Homo sapiens: one gene and its partners. The protein of the gene in region 1 interacts with the protein of each later gene in a pairwise test. Each region holds a gene or a part of one and is shown in the gene's direction. Other genes may lie near its edges.

Region 1 (3,884 bases):
ATTTCAGCCCCAGCGCCCCAGCCTCACCTTCTCTGGTGATAACTCCAGCACCCAGGGATGGAGAGTCATGGGGACCCTATTAGGTCTCGGTGCAGTGTTGGCCTATCAGGACCATCGGTGTAGGGTAAGTAGGGAAAGTGCTTCATTGTCAGAACAGACTGGGTGCAGTGGCTCACGCCTGTTATCCCAGCACTATAGGAGGCCAAGGTGGGTGGGTCACTTGAGGTTAGGAGTTTGAGACCAGCCTGGGCAACATGGCAAAACCCCATCTCTAGTAAAAATTAGCCAGGTGTGGTGGTACATACCTGTAATCTCAGCTACTTGAGAGGCTGAGACACAAGAATCACTTAAACCCAGGAGGCTAAGTCTGCAGTGAGCCAAGATCAAGATCAGGCCACTGCTCTCCAGCCTGGGTGACAGAGTGAGACTCCATCTCAAAAAAAAAAAAAAAATTGTCAGAATAAAGGAATCAGTCCTAGTAAACTCCACAGGCAACCCAGGCTGTGACCCATGTTCTTGTAGTTACCACAGAGTTCACAGTGACGCAGTCTTCATGCACAGTGGAGATGAAATCTGCTAATCTGCTACCTTCGCTTCCCAGTGGCCAACACCGTGGGTTGGGTCAGGGTGAGCTCAAGTGATTTCTTCTTATTCTTCTTCATTTTTTCTTTTTTTTTTTTTTGAGATGGAGTTTCACTCTTGTTGCCCAGGCTGGAGTGCAATGGCATGATCTCAGCTCACCACAACCTCCACCTCCCGGGTTCAAGTGATTCTCCTGCCTCAGCCTCCCAAGTAGCTGGGATTACAGGCATGCACCACCATGCCCAGCTAATTTTGTATTTTTAGTAGAGACAGGGCTTCTCCATGTTGGTCAAGCTGGTCTTGAACTCCCGACCTTATGTGATCCGCCCACCTCGGCCTCCCAAAGTGCTGGGATTACAGTTGTGAGTCACCACGCCCGACCAAGTGATTTCTTCTTAATAGTCTCTTCCCTTTTATCTTACTCCTTCCCTGCCAATAGGCTGCTCAGGAGTCAACACACATATACACTAAGGAGGAAGTGAGTTCCCACACCAGCCCTGAGACTGGGATCTGGGTGACTCTGGGCTCTGAGGTCTTTGATGTCACAGAATTTGTGGACCTACATCCAGGGGGGCCTTCAAAGCTGATGCTAGCAGCTGGGGGTCCCCTAGAGCCCTTCTGGGCCCTCTATGCTGTTCACAACCAGTCCCATGTGCGTGAGTTACTGGCTCAGTACAAGATTGGGGAGCTGAATCCTGAAGACAAGGTAGCCCCCACCGTGGAGACCTCTGACCCTTATGCTGATGATCCTGTACGTCACCCAGCCCTGAAGGTCAACAGCCAGCGGCCCTTTAATGCAGAGCCTCCCCCTGAGCTGCTGACAGAAAACTACATCACACCCAACCCTATCTTCTTCACCCGGAACCATCTGCCTGTACCTAACCTGGATCCAGACACCTATCGCTTACACGTAGTAGGAGCACCTGGGGGTCAGTCACTGTCTCTTTCCCTGGATGACTTGCACAACTTTCCCAGGTACGAGATCACAGTCACTCTGCAGTGTGCCGGCAACCGACGCTCTGAGATGACTCAGGTCAAAGAAGTAAAAGGTCTGGAGTGGAGAACAGGAGCCATCAGCACTGCACGCTGGGCTGGGGCACGGCTCTGTGATGTGTTAGCCCAGGCTGGCCACCAACTCTGTGAAACTGAGGCCCACGTCTGCTTTGAGGGACTGGACTCAGACCCTACTGGGACTGCCTATGGAGCATCCATCCCTCTGGCTCGGGCCATGGACCCTGAAGCTGAGGTCCTGCTGGCATATGAGATGAATGGGCAGCCTCTGCCACGTGACCACGGCTTCCCTGTGCGTGTGGTGGTTCCTGGAGTGGTGGGTGCCCGCCATGTCAAATGGCTGGGCAGAGTGAGTGTGCAGCCAGAGGAAAGTTACAGCCACTGGCAACGGCGGGATTACAAAGGCTTCTCTCCATCTGTGGACTGGGAGACTGTAGATTTTGACTCTGCTCCATCCATTCAGGAACTTCCTGTCCAGTCGGCCATCACAGAGCCCCGGGATGGAGAGACTGTAGAATCAGGGGAGGTGACCATCAAGGGCTATGCATGGAGTGGTGGTGGCAGGGCTGTGATCCGGGTGGATGTGTCTCTGGATGGGGGCCTAACCTGGCAGGTGGCTAAGCTGGATGGAGAGGAACAGCGCCCCAGGAAGGCCTGGGCATGGCGTCTGTGGCAGTTGAAAGCCCCTGTGCCAGCTGGACAAAAGGAACTGAACATTGTTTGTAAGGCTGTGGATGATGGTTACAATGTGCAGCCAGACACCGTGGCCCCAATCTGGAACCTGCGAGGTGTTCTCAGCAATGCCTGGCATCGTGTCCATGTCTATGTCTCCCCATGAGCATGGAAAGGAGCCACCTCCACCCCTTTCCCCACCCATTAGCCTCACTGCTTCAGAAAAATCTTTCCCACCTTTCAACTTCTTGGATCACAACTCTGGCCTTCCTAAGCCATACCCAAGTACACATATAGCACATTTCACCCAAGGACCTTCCCTCTTTGGACACTATGTTACATACCCCTCTTGGCCTTTGAACCTGTGCCAGGAAGTGTGAGCTGTTACAGCAAGGGGCTAGAAGTGAAAAAAGTAATTCTGGAGACAAGCACTATTTTCTCTTCCTACCCCACCTCCATTTCTAATGCCTACTGCCATCAAGGCCTTGTTTTGCTTTTCTTTTTGGATTGTTCAGAGAAATGTGTGTGGCATGTGTAAGAAAAGTGTATATACTATCTTATACTACCTCTCCAGGTTGCCAGAGAGTTGCGAGGAGAGCAAGGGGCACAACCGTCTCCCTTTATAGTTCTACTTTTCTAATAAATAGTCTGTTTAAGATCATAACTCTTGGGCCTGGGGAGTGAGCCTATTGCAGGAGGAAGGATGCATTTGTACTGGGATGTATAATGAGATTAGACCAAAACAAACAAAACTGGGGAGGAAGACAGAGAGGAAGTAGGCTTGTAGGTTAAGAAGTAGGGCTTCCGGCTGAGCACAGTGGCTCACGCCTGTAATCCCAGCACTTGGGAGGCCAAGGCAGGTGGATCACTTGAGGTCAGGAGTTCGAGACCAGCCTGGCCAACATGGCAAAACCCAGTCTCTACCAAAAATACAAAAATTAGCTGGGTGTGGTGGTGGGTGCCTGTAATCCCAGCTACTTGGGAGGCTGAGGCAGGAGAATCGCTTGAACCAAGGAGGCAGAGGTTGCAGTGAGCCGAGATCACACCCACTACACCCCAGCCTGTGCGACAAAGCGAGATTCTGTCTCAAAAAAAGGGGGGCTTCCTTCTCTGAGGTTTGGCAGTATCTGCAGGGACACCTAGGTGATTGACCTCAGGATACCATGAAGAGAGGAGAGGTGACAAAAACATGTACCCTCCAACTCCTTTCCCCAACAGTTCCAATGCACTTGGCAGGAAAGGCAAAGGGTGCTAGGAGTTTAAAATCAATATTGTCTTAGGAGGTCGTGAAAGCAAAATAAATCTTGAGGCCCCAGAATCACTAAGCTAAAGGGAAAAGTCAAGCTGGGAACTGATTAGGGTAAACCTGCCTCCCATTCAAAGTCATCCCTCTGCTCACTGAGATAAATGCATACCTGATTGCCTTCTTTGAGTGGAATACAACCATTTGCCTCTTTTTTTTTTTTTTTTTTTGTAGAGACAGAGTCTTGCTCTGTCACCCAGACTGGAGTGCAGGAGTGCGGTGGCACGATCTCCGCTCACTGCAACCTCCGTCTCCGGAGTTCAAGCAATTCTGTCTCAGCCTCCCAGGTAGCTGGGACGACAGGCGCACACCGCCA
Region 2 (4,509 bases), on another chromosome or scaffold:
CTGGGGCTCTGATCTCCTTTACCCTTGCTTTTCAAGCCGAGAAGCCCTAAGTCTACAGCCTCCCTTCCCGTGGGTACTCCACTTCGTAAAGCAGGGATGCCATTCAGATAAACACACCATTGTCCCCACTCTAGCTGTAGAGAGTGGCTCAGATGTTTTATCTGGAAGCAGAAGTAGGCTGTAAAACAGGTAGCTCCTAATCTTTTCCTAAAGGAACAAAGTATGGAGAAGCTCAGGAGTGTGGAGAAAGTCAAAAAAACTGCGGAGGTTGTTGTGCAAAGCAATAGGGAAGAGACTGGTTAGATTCACTGGAGATGCAGGATAAACTAGTAGGCCAGCTAGTTTGCTGGAGAGAACCAGGAAAAGAAGAAGCTAGGAGGAGCCCTTTGGTATCAGAACAACTCTCAAACACTGACCTTGGGAACTAACTGTCCCTTTAGAGGGACCCAAATTTGATCTACTCAGTCTGTGGAGCAATTTATGCCTCAGGGTGTTATTAAAACCAGTAGAGCAATCAGCTGGAAATTAGTGAAGCTTTAACAACTAGATGTGGTCAAGGAAAGATACACTCAAAGAAAGTCTTACAAAAATCTTTGTCATCCAGGATGACTGTGGGCATACCCAAGGCTGTGCCTTCTAATGAGCAATATCACATACTTCATACTTGAAGTTTGAGGGCAAACAGACTTTGCAAAAATAATCCAGCTGGTTACTAAACAAATGAGCAAATGACAATAACAAGCCTAAGGTGGAAAAGGTGGGACCAGTAGTACTCAGAGTTGCTAAAATGTCTAGTTTCCAACAAAGAATTATGAGCTATGCAAAGACACAGGAAAGTATGACCCATACACTGGAAAAAAAGCAGGTAACAGAAACTGATTGTGAAAGTGACCAGATGTCACATTTAATAGACAAAGACTTCAAAGTAGCCATTATATATGTTCAAATAACTAAAAAACTATGATTAAAGAAGCAAAGAAAGGTGTGTGATAATGTCATGTCAAATAGGGAATATCAATAAAGAGATAGCAATTATATATTAAAAAAGAAACAAATAGAAATTCTGGAGTTGAAAAGTACAGTAACTAAAATGAAAAATTAACTAGAGGAGTTCAATAGGCTAGAACTGACAGAAGAAAGAATTCATGAATTTGAAGATAGATCAATACAGATTATGCAATATGAAGGAGAGAAAAAAGACTGATGTGTTGGAGAAGTGTCAGACACCATTGAACACACCAGCATATCAGAAATGATTAATAACAAGGTTAATATAACAAAAGATGCAAATATGCTCTTTTCTTCTCAGATTCTTTAAAAGACATTATATAAAGTAATAAGTATAACAATATAATGTTGAGTTTGTAACATTTGTAGACATAATGTGGATTACAATAAAATCACAAAAAAGGGGAAAAGGAACAGACTTATATAGGAATAGCATTCCTGTATCTCACTGGAATTAAGTTGGTATAAATCAGAAGCTGATTCTGATGAGAAGCATATTGTTAGCCCAGCTGGGTGCTGTGGCTCACGCCTGTAATCCCAGCAATTTGGGAGGCCAAGGTGGGCAGATCACAAGGTCAGGAGATCGAGACCATTCTGGCTAACATGGTGAAACCTTGTCTGTACTAAAAATACAAAAAAAAAAAAAAAAAAAAATTAGCCGGGCGTGGTGGCGGGCGCCTGTAGTCCCAGCTACTTGGGAGGCTGAGGCAGGAGAATGGCATGAACCCGGGAGGCGGAGCTTGCAGTGAGCCGAGATCGTGCCACTGCACTCCAGCCTGGGTGATAGAGTGAGACTCCGTCTCAAAAAAAAAAAAAAAAAAAAAAGGAAGAAGAAGAAGTGTATTGTTAGCCCAAGAGTAACTGCTAAAGAAAAAAAAAGTATAATCATTAAGTTATAATGCTACATTTGAAAATATTCACTTAATGCAAAAGAAAGCAGTAAAGGTGGAATAAAGGACAAAAACACATGAGACATATAAAAAACAAAAAGTAAAAATAAAACATGTAAATCCAGCTATATCAATAATATTAAATGTGCATGGATTAAGCAATCTAGTCAGAAGACAGACTGGATTAAAAAAAAAACAAGATCCAATTATATGGTGTCTAAAGGTGGCACACTTAAGGTTTAAAGATACAAATAGTTTGAAAGTAAATGGATGGAAAAAGAAATATAATGCAATAAAGAAAAGATAAATGTTTGAGGTGTCAGATATGCCAGTTACCCTGTTTTGATCATTACACTTTATATACATGTATCAAAATATCACATGTATCCCAAAAATATGTACTACTTTTATTAATTAAAAATTACATATATGCACATATAAATACATATATATACGTGTATACACATATATATATGCATGTATACATATATATACATGTACACATATATATACATATATACATGTATACATATATACATGTATACATATACATGTATACATATATACATGTATACATATATATGTATATATATATAAAAATATGCAAAAGGCAACTATGAGAAAGCTGGAGTGGCTACTTTAATATCAGCTTTTTATTTACTTTTTATTTATTTATTTGTTTATCTTTGAGATGGAGCCTTGCTCTGTCACCCAGGCTGGAGTGCAGTGGCACGATCTTGGCTCACTGCAACCTCCGCCTCCCAGGTTCAAGCAATTTTCCTGCCTCAACCTCCCAAGTAGCTAGGACTACGGGTGTGTGCCACCATGCCCGGCTAATTTTTTTTTTTTTTTTGAGATGGAGTCTCACCCTGTTGCCCAGGCTGGAGTGCAGTGGTGCAATCTCAGTTCACTACACCTCTGCTTCCTGGGTTCAAGCAATTCTCGTGCCTCAGCCTCCTGAGTAGCTGCCCGCCACCACACCCAGCTCATTTTTGTATTTTATTAGAGACGAGGTTTCACCATGTGGGCCCGGCCGGTCTTGAACTCCTGACCTCAAGTGACCCACCCACCTCGGCCTCCCAAAGTGTTGGGATTACAGACGTAAGCCACCATGCCAGGCCTGAATTATATACTTTAAATAGGTGAATTGGATGGTAGTGAGTAAAACTTGAAAATAAGAATACCAGTTTTATGAGTAACAACTAATGGATGCAGTTTCGGTTTCTTTGCAGTTCAGCTTGTCCTTAGAGAATAAATTCCACTGAGGACGTACAGTCAAAATAACGTGAGCTAAAAGTCATTTGAAGTAATTCTTTTTTCTCTGTGGTTATGTTACCAACTTGATTGTTAGTTATTGCATTAATTGACTTTTCCTATACTGAAACAACAATTCCAGAATTTTAGTAGCTTATAATGATAAACATTTATTTCTTGCTCAGGTTCTGTGAGTCCACTCTAGTGGTTCTTCTCTAGGCCCCAGGTTCAGTTCAGGTCTACCTGTGTGTCTTCTCATCCTGGGACTTCAGTTGAAAACACAGCTCCCATATAAGATAATGTAGGTCTTGTGGAGGGCATGGGAACACAAGAGGGTTGCTAGAATTTGCAGCGACTCCTAAATCCTTTGTGTGGACTGGCACACTGTCACTTTTATCCATATTTGTTTGTTTTGCATAAAAGGTTAAATTACGTTTTGTTGTTGTTGTTGTTGTTTTGAGACGGAGTCTCCCTCTGTTGCCCAGGCTGGAGTGCAGTGGCGTGATCTAGGCTTGCTGCAAGCTCCGCCTCCCAGGTAGCTGGGACTACAGGCGCCCGCCACCACACCTGGCTAATTTTTTGTATTTTTAGTAGAGATGGGGTTTCACCGTGTTAGCTAGGATGGTCTCTATCTCCTGACCTCGTGATCCACCTGCCTTGGCCTCCCAAAGTGCTGGGATTACAGGTGTGAGCCGCTGCACCCAGCCAAATTATGTTTTTTACTTATGTGAGTTTGTAATGACACCACCACATTCACTATCCCCCAGTTCTTCCTCATTTTGCCCCATTCCATATTTTATCTTTCCTTGTCCTCGTGACAATATCGGTTCCCAATAACACTACTGTATGTATTTATTCTATTCTACAATACACACAATATAGTTTAAAAATTAAGATAGTAATATCACTACTAATAACATTATATGAAGAGTTTAAGATATTTTTAAATTTCTTTTGCTTTTAGAAAGGTACCACTAAAGATGTCCATTCAGAAAACTGTTCAAGAATTATTTGAATTATATTCTGTGTGTGGTTATCAAGTCAGTAGGTTTTTTCTTTTTAAAGATGGGGTCTTACTCTGTTGCCCAGGCTGGAGTGCAGTAGCACAATCATAGATCATAGCTCACCATAACCTTGAATTTCTGGACTTTGCCTCTGCCTCTCACCTCTCAGCCTCCTGAGTAGCTGGGACTATAGGCACCCATCATCACGCCCACCTGACATTTTTTTTTTTTTTTTTGGGTAAAGACTGAGTCTCATTATTTTCCAGGCTGGTCTTGAACTCCTGGTCTCTGGCCCCAAGCAATCCTCTTGCCTCAGCTACCCAAAGTGCTGGGATTACAGATTGAGCCACTGC
Region 3 (4,509 bases), on another chromosome or scaffold:
CCACCCAAACAAGATTTTTTAAAAAGACTGTCCCTGTACACCTTGTTCCTCGGGGTGGTTAAGGCACAACCTCTTTCTATATGAGCTCAGTCACCAGGGATGCTTAGAATTCCTCTATTCCTGGCCGTACCAGATGACAGAAGGAAGCGATTGGCCCTGGAATGACTGGGCTCCAGGTCCCCACCTCCCTCATACAGCCTTGGTCTGGGAAGCCCAGGCTTGATGCGTATGCAGAAGGAAGGCAGCATACATTCTAGACAGAACGATCTAGTAACTATGGGGCTGTCATTTGGGGAGGTGGATCAATGTCCTTATAAAAAATGCTACAGACTATTCTCTGGGGCCCACAGGACGGGACCATAGACTTAATAAACAAAATGGGGACGGTGTACAGAGATCCACAAGTAGAAATTTTCTCAAGGTGCTTTTTTTTTTTTTTTTTTTTTTGAGACGGAGTCTTGCTCTTTCACCCAGGCTGGAGTGCAGTGGCGCGATCTCGGCTCACTGCAAGCTCCACCTCCTGGGTTCACGCCATTCTCCTGCCTCAGCCTCCCAAGTAGCTGGGACTACAGGCGCCTGCCACCACGCCCGGCTAATTTTTTTGTATTTTTAGTAGAGACGGGGTTTCACGGTGTTAGCCAGGATGGTCTTGATCTCCTGACCTCATGATCTGCCTGCCTTGGCCTCCCAAAGTGCTGGGATTACAGGCATGAGCCACTGCGCCTGGCCCCCAAGGTGCTTTATTTAGCTTGTTTTTGAAACCAGCTGTGTAACATGAGGGTGTGGCACTAGGACTGAGGGAAGAAACAGCCCAAATCTATAAGATATGGGTCAAGTGACCTTGTTTTATAAAGTCCGGAAGACTCACAGTGGGTTAGATGCTACAGGCACAAGTAACAGATACCCATTCAGACTGGCCTAAACAATAAGGAAATCCATTAAGAAATGGCTCAAGACCAGGTGTGGTAGCGCACACCTATCGTCCCAGCTACTCGGGAGGTTGAGTTGGGAGGATCACTTTGAGTTTGAGGCTGCAGTGAGCCATGATTGCACCACTGCACCCCAGCCTTGGCAATAGAGCAAGACCTTGTCAAAAAAAGAAAAGAAATGGGGCCAGGCGCAGTGGCTCACGCCTGTAATCCCAGCACTTTGAGAGGCCGAGGCAGGCGGATCACCTGAGATTGGGAGTTCAAGACCAGCCTGACCAACATGGAGAAACCCCGTCTCTACTAAAAATACAAAAAAAATTAGCCGGGTATGGTGGCGCATGCCTGTAATCTCAGCTACTTGGGAGGCTGAGGCAGGAGAATCGCTTGACCCCAGGAGGTGGAGGTTGTGATGAGCCAAGATTGCACCATTGCACTCCAGCCTGGGCAACAAGAGCGAAACTCGGTCTCAAAAAAAAAAAAAAAAAGAAGAGAAAAGAAATGGTTCAAAGTCTAGGCCCTCTTCAGAGCTGGCTGATTCAGCTTGCCAACAGTGACATCAGGGTGAGGCTTCCTCTGTCCACAGCATTAGCTGCGAATATCCTCATGGTCACAAGATGGCTGCCAGTGGCCGTCAGGGTGTGTGCTTCCTTGTTCACATCCAGTGGAAGAGTGACAGCCTGCTCCCCTTAGCTCTCTGACACCAATGAGAAGGTGCTAAGAACTTACTAGCAGGCCTTTCCTCATGACCCATTCAACAGGATTGGGTCACGTGCCTATTCCTGAACCACTAATTGGGAAGGGATGGGATTACTCTTAGACCAGTGGTTCTCAACTGAGCATGAGTTTGTCTTCCAGGTGACAGTTGGCCATGTTTGGAGACATTTATGGTTGTCACAACTGGGGTGATGCTACTGGCATCTCATGGGTAGAGGCCAGGGATGCTGTCAAACATCCTACAATGCACAGGACAGCCTCACAACAAAGAATTATGGCCCTAAGTGCCAAGGTTGAGAAAGTCTGCCTTAGACCTGTCAGGGCTGCCCCCAGCCTGGGGTCTGTTTCCCCCAAAACACGCACATCTCAGCGGACAGGGCCAGAATGCACTTTGGGGGCCAGCCACAGCCCCTGCCAGCCTCCCAGTTCCCCCAGATCCTACCCTGGGCTTCCCCTGTAAGAGCTTTATAATGAGATTTCAATTTTATAAAATTATAAGGGGCCTCTTAGGAGTTTTTGCCTGACATATCTTTATGAACCTACCCTGAGTGTTTGTCCCTGGAGAGCCAGGCCCAAGGATACCAATGGCTAGAACCAACAGAAAAGCACAGCTGCCGGCAGGAGGCCTCACCCTCCCGCAGTGTGAGGCAGAGCAGCACAGTGGCTCAGAACAACAGCATGTGCTGGGTGACCTTTGGCAAGTTGATTCACCTCTCTAAACCTCAGCCTTCTGAGCTGCTAAATGGGGCTGTTGTGATTGCTGGATGAGGCGAGGCCTGCGAAGTGGCTGGCATGCAGCAGGTGCTAATGAGTGCTGCAAAGGTGATGTCACGCAGGCAGCTTCCCGTGGCCAGAGAAACATTGCAGAGAAGGGATAAGTAGGGCTTAGTGACTTTGACGGGTCAATGGAAGAATGACCCAAAGAAGGCTTCAAGGCCAGGCCTGCAGTTCTCCACCACAAAGGCCCTCACTGATAGCACCCACTCCCCCACACTCAGCTTTGGGGCCTAGGTCTGGTCACCCAGCTAGAAGCCACAGGACCCTGAGGCGTCCGAGGGTGGGAAGGCTGAGAGGCAGCTGAGACTCCTGGAGGCCGTGACTGGGAAGCCCTCTCTTTAGAAAGGCCATCAGCTTCCTGCGTGGGGGTGACTGGCTCCTCCCGAGAGATGGCAGCCAGGTCTGACTGTGCCCCTCTCTTACAGACCCCATGATGGAGCTGACAGGCACTGACCCTTCAGAGCTCGACGGCCAGCAGGAGATGGAGGACTTCGAGGAGAACGCCTACAGCTATGCGAGCGTGGACAGCAGCGCCGAGGCCAGTGTCCTCACTGAACAGGCCATGAAAGAGATGGCCTACTACAATGTGCTATAGCGCAAGCTGGGCCACCCCTAACGGGGGCCGGGGGCGAGGGCATGGGGGTGAGACCCATGGGCTGCAGGCTGCACCTCCTGCAGCCGAGAAACAAGCTACTGCCCCACTGTTCTGAGCCCTCCCTCCCCGAGTCATTTGCACCACTAGGGACCTTTAGACCAAATGGAGACTGTACTACTGGCCCCGGCTGTGAGCCAGCACAGGCCCAGGCATCCCAGCAAGGGAAGGAGAACACGCGAGGCCCAGATCTGGGTCTCCCTGGCCTGCTTCCGTGGGGAGTGGGAGAAGTGGGGCCACTGGGGACAGGTCACAAGGGCACCGGCCCTCGGGGTCTCTCCAGGCCCAGCAGAGCTCTTCAGGGGTCCTGACACTGGAAGAAGAGACCACTTGAGCCATGTCTTTTTCACGGCCAACTCCTGCCTCTAAGGATGTCTGAGCTCCCCTCTGGCCAGTACTGCCCACCTCTACCTTGTCCAGGCCCCCTTCCCCGCCCTGTCGACGGACCGCCAGGCAGGGCACTCTGCCTTCTACCTCCCGGGGTCTCCCATGCGCTCCTCAAGCCAGGTGTGCACGTGGCCCTGGCCCTGGCCTGCAGGACAGCTGGGGGGCACCCAGCCCCCAGAAGACCCCTGTCCTACATCCCTTTCTGGAAGTGAGTGTCCCTACAGTGGATTGCAACACATGTCGTCCACTTCGACCCTAGCTGGAGTGCCTCACCAGGGGGCCCCACTAGGAACAAAGCCAGGACAGGCCCCGCGTCAGGCACACACTAACAAAACCAGAAGCATGGGGCAGGGCAGGGCGGAGTGAGGGCATCACAGGGGACCAAGAAGGGCTGTCCTTGGGGGAGGCCCAGGACCACCTGTCGGGGAGGGGGACCGCAGTCATTTCTCATTCCTCAGTGTCCACCTTGCGACGGGGATAGCCACGAGTCAGCAGCTTCCCGGAAAGAGCAACGTATTTTAAAAAGGAAAGTAAAGCCCACAGAGGGAAATCAAGGGTTTTTTTGAGCAAAGGGGGTCTTCTGAAGGTAACTTATTATTTTTTTCTTTCCAACTGTGTGTCACCTATGACCTTTTCTGATGGAGATGCATTTTCTTTTTCCAAGCGTAAGCTTCCTAATGTGCTGTGCGTGCTTCCTACCCACCCACCCCGAGCAGCCTGGCCGGGCAGGACTGGGGCTCCATGGGGACTGTCACCCTGGCCCTGGAGGTGCAGCCGCTGGCAGCAGCCTCAGCAGGCTGGGGTGGGAGGCAGGAGAAGGCAGAGCTGGGAAGCCCTCCACCCCTGCCTGGCTCCTGCAGTCGCTGACTTGCTCTGTCCCATGTCCCATCCTCGGCTGTCAGGGCTGCTGACTCTGCTCAGCCAACAGCTAGCTCCCTCGCTCGCCTGCTCTCTTCCCCTCTGTTCCCACGCCAGCTCCTGCCCCTGGAACCAGAGATGACAGGCCCAGGGCAGTGAAATAGCACATTCAGGAACTCTAGGGCACCCGGA
Region 4 (4,509 bases), on another chromosome or scaffold:
CCTCTCTCCTTTCCTGCCTCCCCAGACACCCGCTCTTCCCCCTCTTGGCCCTGGTCTTTGAGAAATGTGAACTGGCTACATGCTCTCCCCGTGACGGGGCCGGAGCTGGGCTGGGGACACCCCCTGGAGGTGACGTCTGCTCCTCTGATTCCTTCAACGAGGACATCGCTGCCTTTGCCAAGCAGGTGGGCACCTCCCACCCACCACACACCGAGTCAGAGAGCCAGCGAGGAGGGGTGGGTGGAAGGCGGGACATCCCCCTGCCGGCCTCTCTCTTCCCTCCCAGGTTCGCTCTGAGAGGCCCCTCTTCTCCTCCAACCCAGAACTGGACAATCTGGTGAGACCCGAGCCCTCCCCCACACCCCCTCCTCCAATGGGTCTCCTTCCCTGACGCCCCATCCCTGGGGTTGGTGGGGGGGGTGCAGAGAGAAGGCCACCTGGTCCATGTCCCCAAACCGTCATGATTGTTGCCCACGTGCCGTGTGGTACAGCCTAGAGTCTGAGAACGGGACCCATGGCCCGAGTTCAAATCCCAGCTCTGCCACTCACCAGCTCTGTGACCCAGGGCAAGTCACTCTGCATCTCCGTGCCTTGGTGTCCCGTCTGTGAAGTGTGGCTGGTAGTAATGTCTGTCTTGGAGGGCTGCTGTGGGGGTTTAATGAGTGAATGCGATTCAAGTGCGTGGAACAGCACCTGGCACAGAATAGGGCTCAAAAAGTGTCTGATGTTCCATCCGTCAGAAGATCAGCACCTATGCCAAAGTGAGCGCAGGGACTGCTGCCCAAGGAGAGGAGGCTGGGTGCGGCAGCTCACGCCTGTAATGCCAGCACTTTGGGAGGCCAAGGCCAGGAGATAGCTTGAGGCCAGGGATCGAGACCAGCCTGGGCAACGTAGCGAGACCCCACCTCTACAAAAACATTTAATTAGCGGGGTGTGGTGGCATGCACCTGTGGTCTCAGCTACTTTGGAGGCTGAGGCGGGAGGATCGCTTGAGCCCCAAGAGGTCGAGGCTGTAGTGACCCTTGATCAGCTCCACTGCATACCAGCCCAGGCAACAGGGCAAGACCCTGTCTCTCATAGAGAGCTAGAGAAAGAGAAAGAAAGAAAGAAAAAGAGGGCCGGGTGCGGTGGCTCATGCTTGTAATCCCAGCACTTTGGGAGGCTGAGGCAAGCAGATCACCTGAGGTCAGGAGTTCGAGACCAGCCTGACCAAATGATGAAACCCTGTCTCTACTAAAAATACAAAAATTAGCTGGGCACAGTGGTGCACGCCTGTAGTCCCAGCTACTCAGGAGGCTGAGGCAGGAGAATCGCTTGAACCTGGGAGGCAGAGGTTGCAGTGAGCCAAGATCACACCACTGCATTCCAGCCTGGGCAACAGAGCAAGACTCCATATCAAAAAAAAAAAAAAAAAAGAGAGAGAGAGAGAAGAAAGGAGGGAGGAATACCCAGCTTCTCCCATCCTTTGCTCCCCAAGCTCTTGCCAGGGCTTCCTATTGGCCAAACCCTTTGGCAAGTGTTCTGGGAAATGTAGCTTGCAGGTGGGTGGGGCCTGGAGCTGGGGGCCAACAGGCAGAGGATGGGAATGCCAGTCAGCATGGCTCACCTTAGCTCTCCCCGCTTGTGATGGGTCCTTTTTCGTCTCTTGCTTCTCTCAATCTAACATCTGCTCTTTCCTTAATTCTGGGCTGCATCTCTGTTCTCTCTTTCCCCCTTGCACCTGGTGTCTTTGTCTCTCTTTGCTGCATCTCCCTGTCCCTGTCATTTTGTCTCACTCTTTCTGTTTCTCTGTGTCTCCTCTTCCTCCTTCTCTTCCTCTTCCTTCTTCCTCCCTGCTCCCTCCCCCAATTCCCTCTGTCTCCCCCCACCTCCCGCCCACGTTTTCAGATGATCCAGGCCATCCAGGTGCTGCGGTTCCACCTGCTGGAGCTGGAGAAGGTGAGCGCGTCTCACCTCCCCACACCCTCACTTGCCCCTGTCATCCCACCCCCTCTCGTCGCCTCTGCCCCCCACCTTCCAGCTCTCTCCCCACCGGAGTTGAAGCAGAATGCCGCCCCCGTCCCTGAGCACCCCCGCCCTGCCCCCGTGGGTGGCCCCCCCCAGTACCCCGGTGCCCCCCCAGGTCCACGACCTGTGCGACAACTTCTGTCACCGCTACATCACCTGCCTCAAGGGAAAGATGCCCATCGACCTGGTCATCGAGGATCGGGACGGCGGCTGCAGGGAGGACTTCGAGGACTACCCAGCCTCCTGCCCCAGCCTCCCAGACCAGGTGGGCCCGGGACGGGCACCAGGCATCGTCCTGCAGCCACAGCTGTGCCTGGACACCGCATGAGGGCGCATGTGCACTACACAGCCTCAGACGAAGCCACAGTCAGCCTGATCACAGGGCACGCATATGCACACAGCCACACACCCACTACACAACAGCTACGCAGACTCGGATGCGGCTGGGCAACAGTGCACAGACACACGCACACCAGCGGCTGCAGATGCCACCCACAGATTCAGCTACACCCACACAGGTCCACATACAGCCACACCAACTCAGCAACAGCCATTTCTGCTCACAGCCAGACAGTAGCGTCCACCGGGTACTCACACACGCCCCCCAGCCCAGCCATACGACAGCAGCATAGAACACACAGCCGGGTTCCGCACGCCGTTCTCAATTGAGTATGTGTCCACTGCATACACACACCCGCTCCAGCCACACAGATGGACATAGAGCCAAACAGCCCCAGGTACTGCCCGGCAAACTCAGATATAACCACACTTGGGCCCGGACTGACCACGGTGCCCTCTTGCACACACGTGACCCTGGCCACATCACAGTCGGGCTGCAGCCGAGATCACACGCACACACCACTCACAGCCACATGGCCCCAGACTCATCTACGCAGACTTGGAAATAGACTCACAGGCTCAGATGCGGCCACAAAGAATCAAACCCAGGCCGGGTGCGGTGGCTCTCACCTGTAATCCCAGCACTTTGGGAGGCTGAGGTGGGTGGATCATGAGGTCAGGAGATCAAGACCATTCTGGCTAACACGGTGAAACCCCGTCTCTACTAAAAATACAAAAAAAAAAAAAATTAGCTGGGTGTGGTGGCGGGTGCCTGTAGTCCCAGCTACTCAGGAGGCTGAGGCAGGAGAATGGCATGAACCCGGGAGGTGGAGCTTGCAGTCAGCCAGGATCGCACCACTGCACTCCAGCCTGGGCGACAGAGCAAGACTCCATCTCAAAAAAAAAAAAAAAGAATCAAACCCAGCAAAGCAACTCAGTAAGGTGGCACCATCTCAGACGCAGCCTCACTACAGTTTTATCCACTTAGGACACCAGACGGAAAACACACACAGCACAGCCGTGTGGATCCCGACTTGCCACAGCTCCATACAGAGTACAGGGGCAAAGCCTTGAGAAGTCGCATGAGAGCCACACTCAGGCAATCCTACTGTGAACACACCTGGCAATGACATCTTCACAGCACACGCACACCCACTCCACACCACCTCAGATACACTCCTATGACGACCACGCCACAGCCAGACCCACCCAGACACAGTCCCGGAGACATTTTTTTTTTTTTTTGAGATGGAGTCTTGTTTTGTCACCCAGACCGGAATGGAGTGCAGTGGCACGATCTCGGCTCACTGCAAGCTCTGCCTCCTGGGTTCAAGCTATTCCCCTGCCTCAGCCTCCCGGGTAGCTGGGACTACAGGTGCCCACGACCACACCGGGCTAATTTTTGTTCAGTAGAGACGGGGTTTCACCATGTTGGCCAGGCTGGCCTCGAACTCCTGACTTCAAGTGATCCTCCCGCCTCGGCCTCCCAAAGTGCTGGGATTACAGGCATGAGCCACTGCAGCCGGCCAAGTCCTGGAGCCTTATACCCACTCGCACAGGAATCGCAACAACAGTGTCACAAACAGGACAACCAAACCTTCAAACTGCAGTCACAGAAAGGAAAATGTAGACTGGTGATGGCTGGGCGCAGTGGCTCATGCCTGTAATCCCAGTACTTTGGGAGGCCGAGGTGAGCAGATCATCTGAGGTCAGGAGTTCAAGACCAGCCTGGCCAACATGGCAAAAACCCGGCTCTACTAAAAATACAAAACTTAGGCCAGGTGCAGTGGCTCACGACTGTAATCCCAGCACTTTGGGAGGCTGAGGTGGGCAGATCACGAGGTCAGGAGTTTGAGACCAGCCAGGCCAACATGGTGAAACCCCGTCTCTACTAAACATAAAAAAAACAAAAAATTAGACAGGCGTGGTGGCACGCACCTCTGATCCCAGCTACTCAGGAGGCTGAGGCAGGAGAATTGCTTGAACCCGGGAGGCGAAGGTTGCAGTGAGCCAAGATCGCGCTATTGCACTTCAGCCTGGGTGACAGGGCAAGACTCTGTCTCAAAAAAACAAACAAACAACAACAAATTAGCTGGGTGTTATGTCGTGCGCCTGTAGTCCCATCTACTTGGGAGGCTGAGGCAGGAGAATCACTTGAACCCG
Region 5 (2,207 bases), about 66 Mb from region 1:
GTTCAAGCGATTATCCTGCCTCAGCCTCCCAAGTAGCTGGGATTACAGGCACCTGCCACCAAGGCTAATTTTTTGTATTTTTAGTAGAGACAGGGTTTCACCATGTTGGCCAGGACGGTCTCGATCTCCTGACCTCGTGATCTGCCCGCCTTGGACTCCCAAAGTGCTGGGATTACAGGTGTGAGCCACTGCTCCCAGCCAAGATCAGATGTTCTTGCATAATGGGCAGGTGAGCTCTGGAGTCACAGTGCCTGGGCGTGAATCTCGGAGCTGTGTGTTCTCAGGAATGTCACCCAAACTCTGTTCTGTTGGTCTCCTCACTTGCAATATGGGGCATTAACAGTACTTACCACCTGGGGTTACTGTGGTTAGTTACTGTGAGGATGAGATAAGGCGGTGGTTTTAAACTGTGGGTAGGATTTTGTCCTCCCTCAGCCCCACTCTTTCTTGGGGACATTTGGCAATGTATGACATTTTTGATGTCACAACAGGCAGGAAGAAGGCTACTGGCATTGAGTGAGTAGAGACCAGGGATGCGGTTAAGCATAGTGCAATATCACCATGCTACAAAAAAAAAAAAAAAAAAGAATTCAGCACCTGTAATCCCAACTACTTGGGAGGCTGAGGCAGGAGAATTGCTTGAACCTGGGTGGCAGAGGTTGCAGTGAGCCGAGATTGCGCCATTGCACTCCAGCCTGGGCGACAGAGCGAGACACCATCTCCAAAAAAAAAAAAAAAAAAAATGTTGAGAAACCCTGAAATACCACGATTCTAGCTAAGACCTCAGCAAGAGGCACATAGCACATAGTAAAGCCTCAATAAACACCACTGACCTTACTGAGGTTCTCTCTGCCCCCTAAGTCATAAGTAGGGTGGCCTCACCAAGGGTGTGGTTCTCAGTCTGTACCTCTGGCACTGGGAAGCCCCGCCTGGCCACCCTAGGATGCAGAATTAATCATAACTTCCAGATATGGAGCACTCACTCTATTCCAGGCCGTGTGCTGACAGCTTCGCAGCAAGCATTCTCTCCTGGCACTCCCCGACAACAGTGAGGTGTCTTGCTATTACTGCCATTTTAGAGGAGGAAACAGGTTCAGGGAGGATCACAAGTCATCAAGCTAGTACTGTGCTTAAACTTAGGTCTAGCTGTTCTTAATGTGCAGAAGAGTGTAAAGGGTTACCATTTTTAAAGAAAAAGTGGGGGCAGGGCATGGTGGCTCATGCCTGTAATCCTAGCACTTTGAGAGGCCGAGGCAGGCGGATCAAGAGGTCAGGAGTTCGAGACCAGCCTGACCAACATGGTGAAACCCTGTCTCTACTAAAAATACAAAAATTAGCTGGGTGTGGTGGAGTGCATCTATAATCCCAGCTACTCAGGAGGCTGAGGCAGGAGAATCACTTGAACCCAGGAGGCGGAGGTAGTGGTGAGCCAAGATCACGCCGAGCCGAGATCGTGCCGCTGCTCTCCAGCCTGGGCAACAGAGCGAGACTCCATCTCAAAAAAAAAAAAAATGTTGGAAGAGGGTGTGCTTGTTTATGTACAAAATGTCGCTAGATTTAAACACAATAAACTGGCAAAGATGGTTGTCTCTGGGGAGAATTGGGGACTTGGGAACAGGAGCTGAAGAACAACTTTTCAGTGTTGTGTTTGGAACCATGTGAATGTATTATGTATTCAAAATGTAAATAAAAATGAAGTTAAAGAGACTGTGCTCCTAACTAGGAGTGTTTGTCTAAGTTGCCTGGGTGTGAGAGCACCTGGGGTGCTTGTTAGAAATAGATTCCAAAGACACACCCAGACCTACTTAAATCAGAATCCTCCAAGGGCTTCGAAACCTGCATTTGACAAGCCTGGCTGATGAGTCGAGTCCCGGCCAGTTTAGGAACAAGAACCCAAGACAACAGGATCCTAGCCCAGAAATAATTCCAGCTGGATCTTGCATCCCTACAGAAGTAGGGAGGTGGCTGTCCTAGGGGAATACGTAAAAGATGTCCAGGACGGCCGGGTGCGGTAGCTCACGCCTGTAATCCCAGCACTTTGGGAGGCTGAGGCAGGTGGATCACCTGAGGTCAGGAGTTGGAAACCAGCCTGGCCAGTGTGGTGAAAGCCCATCTCTGCTAAAAATACAAAAATTAGCCGGGCGTGGTGGCTCATGCCTGTAGTCCCAGCTACTCGGGAGGCCGAGGCAGGAGAATCCCTTGAACCC
Region 6 (4,341 bases), on another chromosome or scaffold:
GAAGGATGGCAATCACTAACCGGGTTATGTCTGATTTTCAGCTATTCCAGGTGTTAACAAGTTGTGTTCTCTGGTTTTTAAAATTCATCATTTAATGAAATATATGTAATGAAATACAGCAGTGAAAATAATAAACTGGAGGTACACGCAAGAGCTTGGGTGAATTTTTCTTTTCTGTAAGTAAAAACATTTTTAACTGATGTATGATAACTCTGCATATTTATGGGATACATGTGATATTCTGATACATGCACACGCACACACGATGTAATGATCAAGTCGGGGTATTTAGGATCTCCACCACCTCAAGCATTTATCATTTCTTTTTTTGGGGAACATTTCCTATCTTTTAGCTATTTTGAAATATACAATAAATAATTACCTATAGTCCCTCTACGGTGCTATCAAACACTAGAACTTAATCCTTCTATGCAACTATATGTTTGTCCCCATTAACCTCCCCACCCTCCCCACCTTTCCCAGCGTCTGGTAACCATCATTCTGCTCTACCTCCAAAAGATCAACGTTTTTAGTTTCCACATGAGTGCCAATATGCTTTTCCCAGGTGCAGAGGCTGCTGATTCCTGGATTTGGAAGGTGGGGGAGAGTGGTTTGGATTTCAGTACCTCCCCCTTCCTCAGGGCTAGGCCCTGTCTGGTCACCTCCTGTTGCTACAGGTGTGCCTGGCACAGACATTCAGCTCCCGGGGCCGTGCCGCCCTCACCCCTGCATGCCTCTAGAGGTACCTGTCCCGTGGATTTGACCCCCTTCCAGACACACAAATAGATCACCACTGAGCAGACACAGGGTCACCTCCCAGCTCCCTACCAGGCAAGAGCGACCAGGGCAGGGACTGATACTGCCGAACCCAGGAGCCAGGCCCGACCCAGCCTCAGGTCCAGCAGGTCCCGCCTGTCCACCTGGGCCAGGCCTAGAGCCCGGGAGCCCCTGGCTGGTGGGAGGCCACCCGCAACCCACCCCACACGCAGCTCCAGCTCCCCCACCAGGCGGGGCGACTAGGACAGGGACAGAACCCGTTGAACCCAGGAGTGAGATCCGGCCCCGGGTCCCGCTGGGCCCTCCCGTCCACCTTGGCTGGACCTGGCGCCTGGGAGACCTTGGCTGGCGCGAGGCCACGCCCACCAGACATGCAGTTCCAGCTACCCCACCAGCTGGGCGACCAGGACAGGGACGGAGGCTGCTGAGCCCAGTTAGAGGCCTGCCCCCCGGGGTCTGTCCTGGGCGCTCCCCCAAGGACGGACAGGGCAGGCAGGGTCCGGGACGATGGCCGCACAGTCCCGGCCCCGTGTTCCCAGGCCCGTCTTGCTCCTCGATGTGAGGGAGACCCGGGGGATGGGACAGGCTGGGCCCCGCAGTGCCTGACTCCCTGCAGGGCTCCCGGGACAGGGGTCCGGCGGACAGCCGGCTGCTCAGGGGTGAGGGGTCCAAGCTGGCATTGCGGCCACCTTCCGGCCCGGGCTCTCTTGGGGAGGGGCGGGGTTGGTGAGAACCGGTCACGTGCTCCGGGGCTCACTCGGGGTCTCCCAGGGCCGGAAGTAGGGCCCCTGTGCGCAGGCGCCCTGAGGATCCCGGGCTGCCCATCTCACGCCAGGGGGCGGAACTTCCTGCAGCCTCTCTGCCTCCGCATCCTCGTGGGCCCTGACCTTCTCTCTGAGAGCCGGGCAGAGGCTCCGGAGCCATGCAGGCCGAAGGCCGGGGCACAGGGGGTTCGACGGGCGATGCTGATGGCCCAGGAGGCCCTGGCATTCCTGATGGCCCAGGGGGCAATGCTGGCGGCCCAGGAGAGGCGGGTGCCACGGGCGGCAGAGGTCCCCGGGGCGCAGGGGCAGCAAGGGCCTCGGGGCCGGGAGGAGGCGCCCCGCGGGGTCCGCATGGCGGCGCGGCTTCAGGGCTGAATGGATGCTGCAGATGCGGGGCCAGGGGGCCGGAGAGCCGCCTGCTTGAGTTGTATTCTGTTCTGTTCTGTTCTGTTCTGTTCTGACAGTTCTGGTGGCGAGGTGGGGGCCGGGAGATGGGGAGGGCAGGGCCAGGTGGGGGAGGAGGCGGGGGAGATGCGAGTAAGTGGTTGGGTGGGGGTGGGGGTGGGGGTTGGGAGGTGGGGATATGAGAGGCCAGCTGCGAGGAGGGGAGGAGGTAAGGGCTGGGAGGTAGAGGGGGTGGGGGTGGGGGAGAGGGGCTGGGTGATTGGGTGAGGGGCACCGGGTCATGCGGGGAGGGGAGCAGGGGCCAGGAGATAGGGGGACCCAGGTGTAGGAGGGGATCAGGAGGTGGGGGGAAGGGGGCAAGATGGGAGCGGGTGGCGGGAGGTGGTTGGGATGGAGGGTCGAGTGATGAGGAGGGGGCCGGGTGATGCCACAGGGGGCAGGGTGGGGAGGGGTCTTGTAAGGGCATGGAGGAGTCAGCTTGGGGTGCAGCAAAGGAAAGTGGGGAACCAAGACAGCTGGGTGGGGTGTGCTACTGGGCCAGTGCCTGGGGAGACAGCCTGGGGGGGATGGGCTGGGCAATCCGGGGTAGGGGGGAGGGGTGGGGGAGTGGGGGAGGGGGAAGCTGGCCTGGGGTAAGCAGCAGGCCGGAGCCACAGGCCAAGTCCTAGGAGAGGATGCCTTAACTGGGCCCCCACCAGCTACCTCGCCATGCCTTTCGCGACACCCATGGAAGCAGAGCTGGCCCGCAGGAGCCTGGCCCAGGATGCCCCACCGCTTCCCGTGCCAGGGGTGCTTCTGAAGGAGTTCACTGTGTCCGGCAACATACTGACTATGTCAGTTCAGGACCAGGACAGGGATGGGGCCTGGGTGGGTGGCGGTCACAGCGTGGCAGGGTGGGGGCTGGGATCCGCCTACACCCCACGGTCAGGCTGCTAGAAACCTGGGAACACCCCAGCACAGGGTCTCAGAACAGAGACCTGGTACACCAGGCCCGCCGCCACCCGAGGGAGCCCAGGGAGATGGGTGCAGAGGTGTCGCCTTTAACGTGATGTTCTCTGCCCCTCACATTTAGCCGACTGACTGCTGCAGACCACCGCCAACTGCAGCTCTCCATCAGCTCCTGTCTCCAGCAGCTTTCCCTGTTGATGTGGATCACGCAGTGCTTTCTGCCCGTGTTTTTGGCTCAGCCTCCCTCAGGGCAGAGGCGCTAAGCCCAGCCTGGCGCCCCTTCCTAGGTCATGCCTCCTCCCCTAGGGAATGGTCCCAGCACGAGTGGCCAGTTCATTGTGGGGGCCTGATTGTTTGTCGCTGGAGGAGGACGGCTTACATGTTTGTTTCTGTAGAAAATAAAACTGAGCTACGATTCCGTGTCTGAGTCTCTTTTCGGCGAGCGAAGGCACCTTCGGACTTGCATGCCCTTGTCCTCGGGTTGCAGGGGAGGCTCTGGGATTCACAGATTGAAGTAGCACAAGGTAACGGGAGGCAATTTGGGAAATGGGGGAAAATGAAAAGCCACTGGGTCCCGCCATTCAGCATTAACTACTGTGGACATTTTAGAATATTTTCCTCAATATACTTGCATTTATATGTTAAATATATGACAGTAGCATATATAATGTTTTTCCAGGTCAGCATTAAATTTTTTCCCAAATTGTTTTCATTGAACATATGAGCTTTTTTACTTGGGAAAAATTCTTTGAAAACGTACTTGAATAGATGCATAGAACCAGCATTATCATATCACTGTTAAGCATGTGATATGGGTTGGGCATGGTGGCCCACACCTGTATTTCCAGCACTGTGGGAGGCTTGAAGCGGGAGGATGGCTTGAGACCTGCAGTTGGAGGCCACCCTGGGCAATGTAGCGAGATTCTGTCTGTAGAAAAATCATTAAAAGGCCGGGTGCGGTGGCTCATGCCTGTAATCCCAGCACTTTGGGAGGCCGAGGCGGGCGGATCACCTGAGGTCAGGAGTTGGAGACCAGCCTGGCCAACATAGTGAAACTCCATCTCTACTAAAAATACACACACAAAAAAACAACAACAAAAAAACATTAGCCAGGCGTGGTGGTGTGTGCCTGTGATCCCAGCTACTTGGGAGGCTGAGGCAGGAGAATCACGTGAACCTGGAAGGTGGAGGTTGCAGTGAGCCGAGATGGTGCCACTGCACCCCAGCCTGGGCAACAGAACAAGACTCTGTCTCAAAAAAAAAAAAAAAAAAGAAAGAAAAGAAAAGAAAAAATTAGCAGGGTGTGGTGGTGTGTGCCTGTGATCCCAGCTACTTGGGAGGTTGAGGTAGGAGAATCACTTGAACCCAGGAGGTGGAGGGTGCAGGGAGCCGAGATCATGCCACTGCACTCCAGCCAGGTTGACAGAAAAAGACTCTGTCAAAAAAA
Region 7 (4,584 bases), on another chromosome or scaffold:
CAGCCTTCCAGGGGGCTGGGGAATAGACCCAGGATCCTTGTCATGTTGCTCCTTCTAGAACCCCAGATGTGAAGGCGTTTCTGGAAAGTCCTTGGTCCCTGGATCCAGCGTCGGCCAGCCCAGAGCCCGTGCCGCACATCCTTGCGTCCTCCAGGCAGTGGGACCCCGCGAGCTGCACGTCCCTGGGCACGGACAAGTGTGAGGCACTGTTGGGGCTGTGCCAGGTGCGGGGTGGGCTGCCCCCTTTCTCAGGTGAGTCCTGGGTGTGCATGTGGGGTGCCTTTGGCCTGGGGAGCGGCGCCAGGCTGTGCTTTAGCCCTAAGAACAATGGGGGCTGTTTGCAAACGGGGTTCGAAGTTTTCCCAGGCCCTTGTGTTGGTGAGAAACCCACGTGTTGAGGGATGAGCTTGATTCAAGGCCCCCGGGCTGTGCCTGCTTTTGTGAAAAGGAGGACGTGTGCTCTCGGGAGGGAGGAAGTGTGGCTCGAGGAAGGGAGAGTCCTGGGCAAAGGCCACCATGGGAGCTGTTCCTTCTATCCTGTCTCCTCCTGGGACTTCCATGTGCTCCAGGGAAGGGAGGGCCTGATCTTCTCCTCCCTGGGTCCCTGGGTCTGCTGGGAAGCATGGGGACGTAGAGGGACTTGGCCCCATCCTGGTCACTCCCTGGGTCTGCAGGAAGTATGGGGACGTAGAGGGACTTGCCCCATCCTGGTCACTCCCTGGGTCTGCTGGGAAGCATGGGGACGTAGAGGGACTTGGTTCTGTCCTGGGTCTGTGGGAAGTGGGGAGGTAGAGGGACTCGGCCCCATCCTGGTTGCTCCGTCCAGCTTTGTGGCCCTGCTTCTCTCACCCGCCTGTGGCTGGTGTGTTTTGGATGTGGCCGGAGATCTGTTTTCCCCGGGGCGCCCCATCTGCCCTTCCGCCTATGCTGCCTGGCCATGGCAGGAACTGTAATTGGGGTGAGCCAGGGGCCCGAGGCCTCCCAGCTGTTCCCTCTGCCACCCGGGGCCTTTGTCCCTAATGCCACCCACAGCTGAGCTCTGGTCCCTCTGTGGGTGGCCCTGCAGGGCGCCTCTGATGACCGAACTCCCCTCGGCCCCTGCTGTGGTAGCGTCTGGAAGTCGCCAGGTGCCATGAGAGGCAGGGCTGTGCCTTTTGGCTCCCAGCTGTGGCTGGGAGCAGTCATGCAGTTGGCAGGGCTGGTGTCAGAGCTGGGGTCATCAGGGCACTCCGGAAACCCAGGAGTCAGCCAGGCACGTGGGGAGCGAGCAGGTCTGAGGGCAGAGCTCGAGGTCCGGGAGGCGGTGCTGAGAGGGTCCCCAGATCCAAGCCCCTTGCGGCTGGCCAAGCCAGCACCCCCTCTAGGAAGCCCTTGGCCCCCAGGTGTTGGGCACCCCACCTCTGGGTGTTCATCTTTTCCTTGTTTACCTGTGTGCCACCCGCTTCTGAGCTTCCTCCCACGTGTCCCTGCTGCAGGGTGCAGGCAGCAGAGCAGGTGCTCGGTCAGTGTGAGTGGACCGAGCCCGTGAGTCACGAGGTCCTCGGGGGCAGCCTGTGGGGCTGGGCAGGGAAGGCTGACCCGCATCTGACTTCTCTCCCAGAACCTTCCAGCCTGGTGCCGTGGCCCCCAGGCCGGAGTCTTCCTAAGGCTGTGAGGCCACCCCTGTCCTGGCCTCCGTTCTCGCAGCAGCAGACCTTGCCCGTGATGAGCGGGGAGGCCCTTGGCTGGCTGGGCCAGGCTGGGCCCCTGGCCATGGGGGCTGCACCTCTGGGGGAGCCAGCCAAGGAGGACCCCATGCTGGCGCAGGAGGCCGGGTGAGTGCCCAGGTGGTGTGCACGCCTGTGTGTGCGTGAGCGAGCATGTGTGTGTGAGCCTGTCCCACCTCCTCCCAGTCCTGCTTGGGCCCACTTTCTCGGCATCTGGAAGCTTCCGTCTCTGCTTCTGTGCCCGTGGGAGGGAGGCCAAGGCCACAGCCCAGGACAGGACCAGCCAGCCTTGCCGTGTGGCTTTCTAATGTGTGTTTCTGGAAACACTTTTGTCTTCCTAATTGTCATTTGTTTTGGCTGATAGTAAAATGAGTTTGTGTTTCGTGAGCACATACCAGCTGGGGTGTGGGAGGGGGAGGGGAGGGGGAGGGAGGGGACGAGAAGAGCGAGACTGTGGCTGGAGAGAAACCGGCAGAGATGCTCTGCAGGACGGATCGGGACCCGCGAGAGCCGCTGGCCCGTGTCCTCAGCGGCTGTGGCCTCTGCATTTCTCCCCGCTGGGCAGGGTGGAGCCTGTCAGGAGTGGTGCCTAGATCTTTGCATTCGAAGCTGCCTTTGCAGGACTTGGGCCCAAATGTTTCCTTGAGCTCCAAGGTCTGGGTCCGCTTGTGGCCACTGAGGAAGAGCTTGTCGCTTCCAGGTCTGCGTTGGGGTCTGATGTGGACGATGGGACGTCCTTCCTGCTGACTGCTGGTCCCAGCTCGTGGCCGGGTGAGTGGGGCCCTGGGTTCAGGGCTGGTCCCCCCGCGTAAGCACCTGATATGAGCTGGGGAATTGGGACTCAGGCCTAGCGTGTGTCAGGGGGCCCCAGGGTCTGTGTCTGAGCCCCCGTTTTCTCCACCGTTGGTGCTTAGCTGTTGGGCCGTGTCTGGTATTGAGCGTTATAGGTGATATGTGAGTGTGTGAGTGAACGTGATGTGGACGAGCCTGCATGAGAGCTGGCGGTGCTTGGAGCCCTGTATTCTTCCCCTTGACCCTGTGTCAGCGAGGCCCCTGGTCCAGCCCGTGCTGGCCGGCAAAGGTGTATGGCCCTGTGACATGGCGTGTGTCCATTCCATTTAGGATTTAGTGTTTGGGAGCCCGTTCCTGGTTCTGGTCCAACAGGTGTCCTGGGTCTGGGGCCACCAGGTATGAGCTCACCCACCTCATCACAGCCTCTGTGCAGCGGGGACAGGGCAGGGCAGACGGACTGAGGTGGGAGCTCTGTTCCTCCGACCCCACCTGTCTGCCTCAAGCTCCCAGAGCACCTGCCTGCCCTGCCGATGTGTCCTGTTTGCTTCCAGGGTCTCTGGAGGGTCGAGGAGGCAGTGGCCCTGCATGGGCCCCAGCTGAGAGCAGTCCACTGGATGTTGGAGAGCCAGGCTTCCTAGGGGACCCTGAGCTTGGCTCCCAGGAGCTCCAGGACAGCCCTCTGGAGCCGTGGGGCCTGGATGTGGACTGTGCAGGCCTGGCCCTGAAGGACGAGGTGGAGAGCATCTTCCCTGACTTCTTTGCCTGCTAGCAGCCAGGCTGTGGAGAGGAGGCGGGCGGGGCCGGTGGATCTGGAGCCGTGTGTGTCCCTGTCGCGTGCTTGGGCATTTTATTTTGGGTTTGGGTTGCAGCTGCACCCTAATTTGAGCGAGGCTTACAGGCTGTGAGAAGAGGATAGTGAATATTAAAGAGGGAAAGCAGTTTTCCTGGAGGAAGCAAAACCTGTGTGGCTTCTGTGTAATTAGCCTGATTCATCAGGCGGATCGCGCCACCTCCGTTCAGCGTTCAGGCAGCTGCCGGGGATTTTGTTCTCCAAAGTTCTCAGCACTGCGAAATCCCGGAATAACCCAGTCCTGGTGCCCTGGGGTAGGGGTGCTGTGGGACCTGCTCCCTGGAGGCGATGTGGCCTCACGGTCTTGGTGCCTGGAGGCTGCTCTGTGAGCTGCTTTTCCTGCTCGTTGCCACTCAGAGCTGCAGGGAGGAGAGTCCTTTAGGAAAAGCCTGCTGTCCTCTCCCAGCCCAGGGGGCTCCAAGGGAAGGGCTGGCTTCCACCTCCACTGCTGGTCATCTCTGCACTCACTGTGCATGGGGAATAGGGGACCCTGGGCAGAGGTCACCTGGCCTCAGTGTCTGGTCCTATTCCCAGCCCTACACCCTGAGATCTGGAGGGGAGCTGGGTTACTTCGGGGTCGGGGTGGGCAGGTTACTTAGAGGAAGGGCCGAGCTCTTTGGATGGTGCTTAGGTGCCCGCCTGTTCTTCAGCCACAGCACAGGTGGTGCTGGTCTCCGACCCCGGATGCTCAGGGTCTCACCCTGCTATCCCCATCTGGATAGCACGCCCACCAGGGCAGTGTTCCAGGGGCCAGCGCAGTCTCTGTCGCCCAGGTAGAGGAAACAGGTCTGAGCGTGGGCTCAGAGCCCCACCAGGCTGCAGCCCTGTGCCTGCATGCAGCCGCCCCCGCAGCCAGCCAGAATGTTCCATTCATTCCTCTGAGTCATTCAGGCAAAGGCTTAGGAGGGCCTGCCGTGGGCAGGAGGTTAGGAGGCTCCAGGGAGCAAGCGCCGTGCAGACACCAGGCTGTGGGTGGCGGGCAGACCCCAGGGGGCTTTGGTGAGGGGCCCAAGGCCATCAGGACTGGCTCTGAGCACCCATCGTGGTCCCTTGGAAGGAGGTTCAGGTCCAGCTGGATGCCTGAGGCTGTTGGCTGCAGAACAGCATCCCTGGGTTGCCAATGCCACCGGGCACTGATGGCCCGTGTTGCTGAGACCCTGCGACAGAGGCGGAGGAGCCTTCAGACCTCTGGTGGACAGAGTGGTGGTCGGGGCCCAGCCGGGAGCACGAGGCTGC

What was found.
Region 2: the proteins of SUOX (region 1) and BAG4 interact in binary tests that used the Homo sapiens proteins (3 or more experiments, as listed by UniProt).
Region 3: the proteins of SUOX (region 1) and ZNF710 interact in binary tests that used the Homo sapiens proteins (3 or more experiments, as listed by UniProt).
Region 4: the proteins of SUOX (region 1) and MEIS3 interact in binary tests that used the Homo sapiens proteins (3 or more experiments, as listed by UniProt).
Region 5: the proteins of SUOX (region 1) and MORN3 interact in binary tests that used the Homo sapiens proteins (3 or more experiments, as listed by UniProt).
Region 6: the proteins of SUOX (region 1) and CTAG1A interact in binary tests that used the Homo sapiens proteins (3 or more experiments, as listed by UniProt).
Region 7: the proteins of SUOX (region 1) and SOHLH1 interact in binary tests that used the Homo sapiens proteins (3 or more experiments, as listed by UniProt).

Annotation. Positions count from the first base shown.
Region 1 is NC_000012.12:56,002,597-56,006,480, forward strand, and holds the end of SUOX (sulfite oxidase, mitochondrial), read left to right. Parts: coding exon 1-124; intron 125-1,021; coding exon 1,022-2,431; 3' UTR 2,432-2,929; downstream 2,930-3,884. UniProt on the Homo sapiens protein: Catalyzes the oxidation of sulfite to sulfate, the terminal reaction in the oxidative degradation of sulfur-containing amino acids.
Region 2 is NC_000008.11:38,186,226-38,190,734, forward strand, and holds part of BAG4 (BAG family molecular chaperone regulator 4), read left to right. Parts: intron 1-4,509. UniProt on the Homo sapiens protein: Inhibits the chaperone activity of HSP70/HSC70 by promoting substrate release. Prevents constitutive TNFRSF1A signaling. Negative regulator of PRKN translocation to damaged mitochondria.
Region 3 is NC_000015.10:90,076,815-90,081,323, forward strand, and holds part of ZNF710 (zinc finger protein 710), read left to right. Parts: exon of another isoform or gene 1-2,845; coding exon 2,846-3,015; 3' UTR 3,016-4,509. UniProt on the Homo sapiens protein: May be involved in transcriptional regulation.
Region 4 is NC_000019.10:47,412,480-47,416,988, reverse strand, and holds part of MEIS3 (homeobox protein Meis3), read left to right. Parts: intron 1-25; coding exon 26-185; intron 186-286; coding exon 287-337; intron 338-1,887; coding exon 1,888-1,938; intron 1,939-2,122; coding exon 2,123-2,272; intron 2,273-4,509. UniProt on the Homo sapiens protein: Transcriptional regulator which directly modulates PDPK1 expression, thus promoting survival of pancreatic beta-cells. Also regulates expression of NDFIP1, BNIP3, and CCNG1.
Region 5 is NC_000012.12:121,648,242-121,650,448, reverse strand, and holds the end of MORN3 (MORN repeat-containing protein 3), read left to right. Parts: 3' UTR 1-1,707; downstream 1,708-2,207. UniProt on the Homo sapiens protein: Assembles a suppression complex (suppresome) by tethering SIRT1 and MDM2 to regulate composite modifications of p53/TP53.
Region 6 is NC_000023.11:154,583,508-154,587,848, forward strand, and holds CTAG1A (cancer/testis antigen 1), read left to right. Parts: upstream 1-1,625; 5' UTR 1,626-1,699; coding exon 1,700-1,968; intron 1,969-2,644; coding exon 2,645-2,779; intron 2,780-3,018; coding exon 3,019-3,157; 3' UTR 3,158-3,309; downstream 3,310-4,341.
Region 7 is NC_000009.12:135,692,280-135,696,863, reverse strand, and holds the end of SOHLH1 (spermatogenesis- and oogenesis-specific basic helix-loop-helix-containing protein 1), read left to right. Parts: intron 1-58; coding exon 59-252; intron 253-1,600; coding exon 1,601-1,814; intron 1,815-2,406; coding exon 2,407-2,477; coding exon of another isoform or gene 2,478-2,518; exon of another isoform or gene 2,519-2,828; coding exon of another isoform or gene 2,829-2,894; exon of another isoform or gene 2,895-3,049; coding exon 3,050-3,267; 3' UTR 3,268-3,457; downstream 3,458-4,584. UniProt on the Homo sapiens protein: Transcription regulator of both male and female germline differentiation. Suppresses genes involved in spermatogonial stem cells maintenance, and induces genes important for spermatogonial differentiation.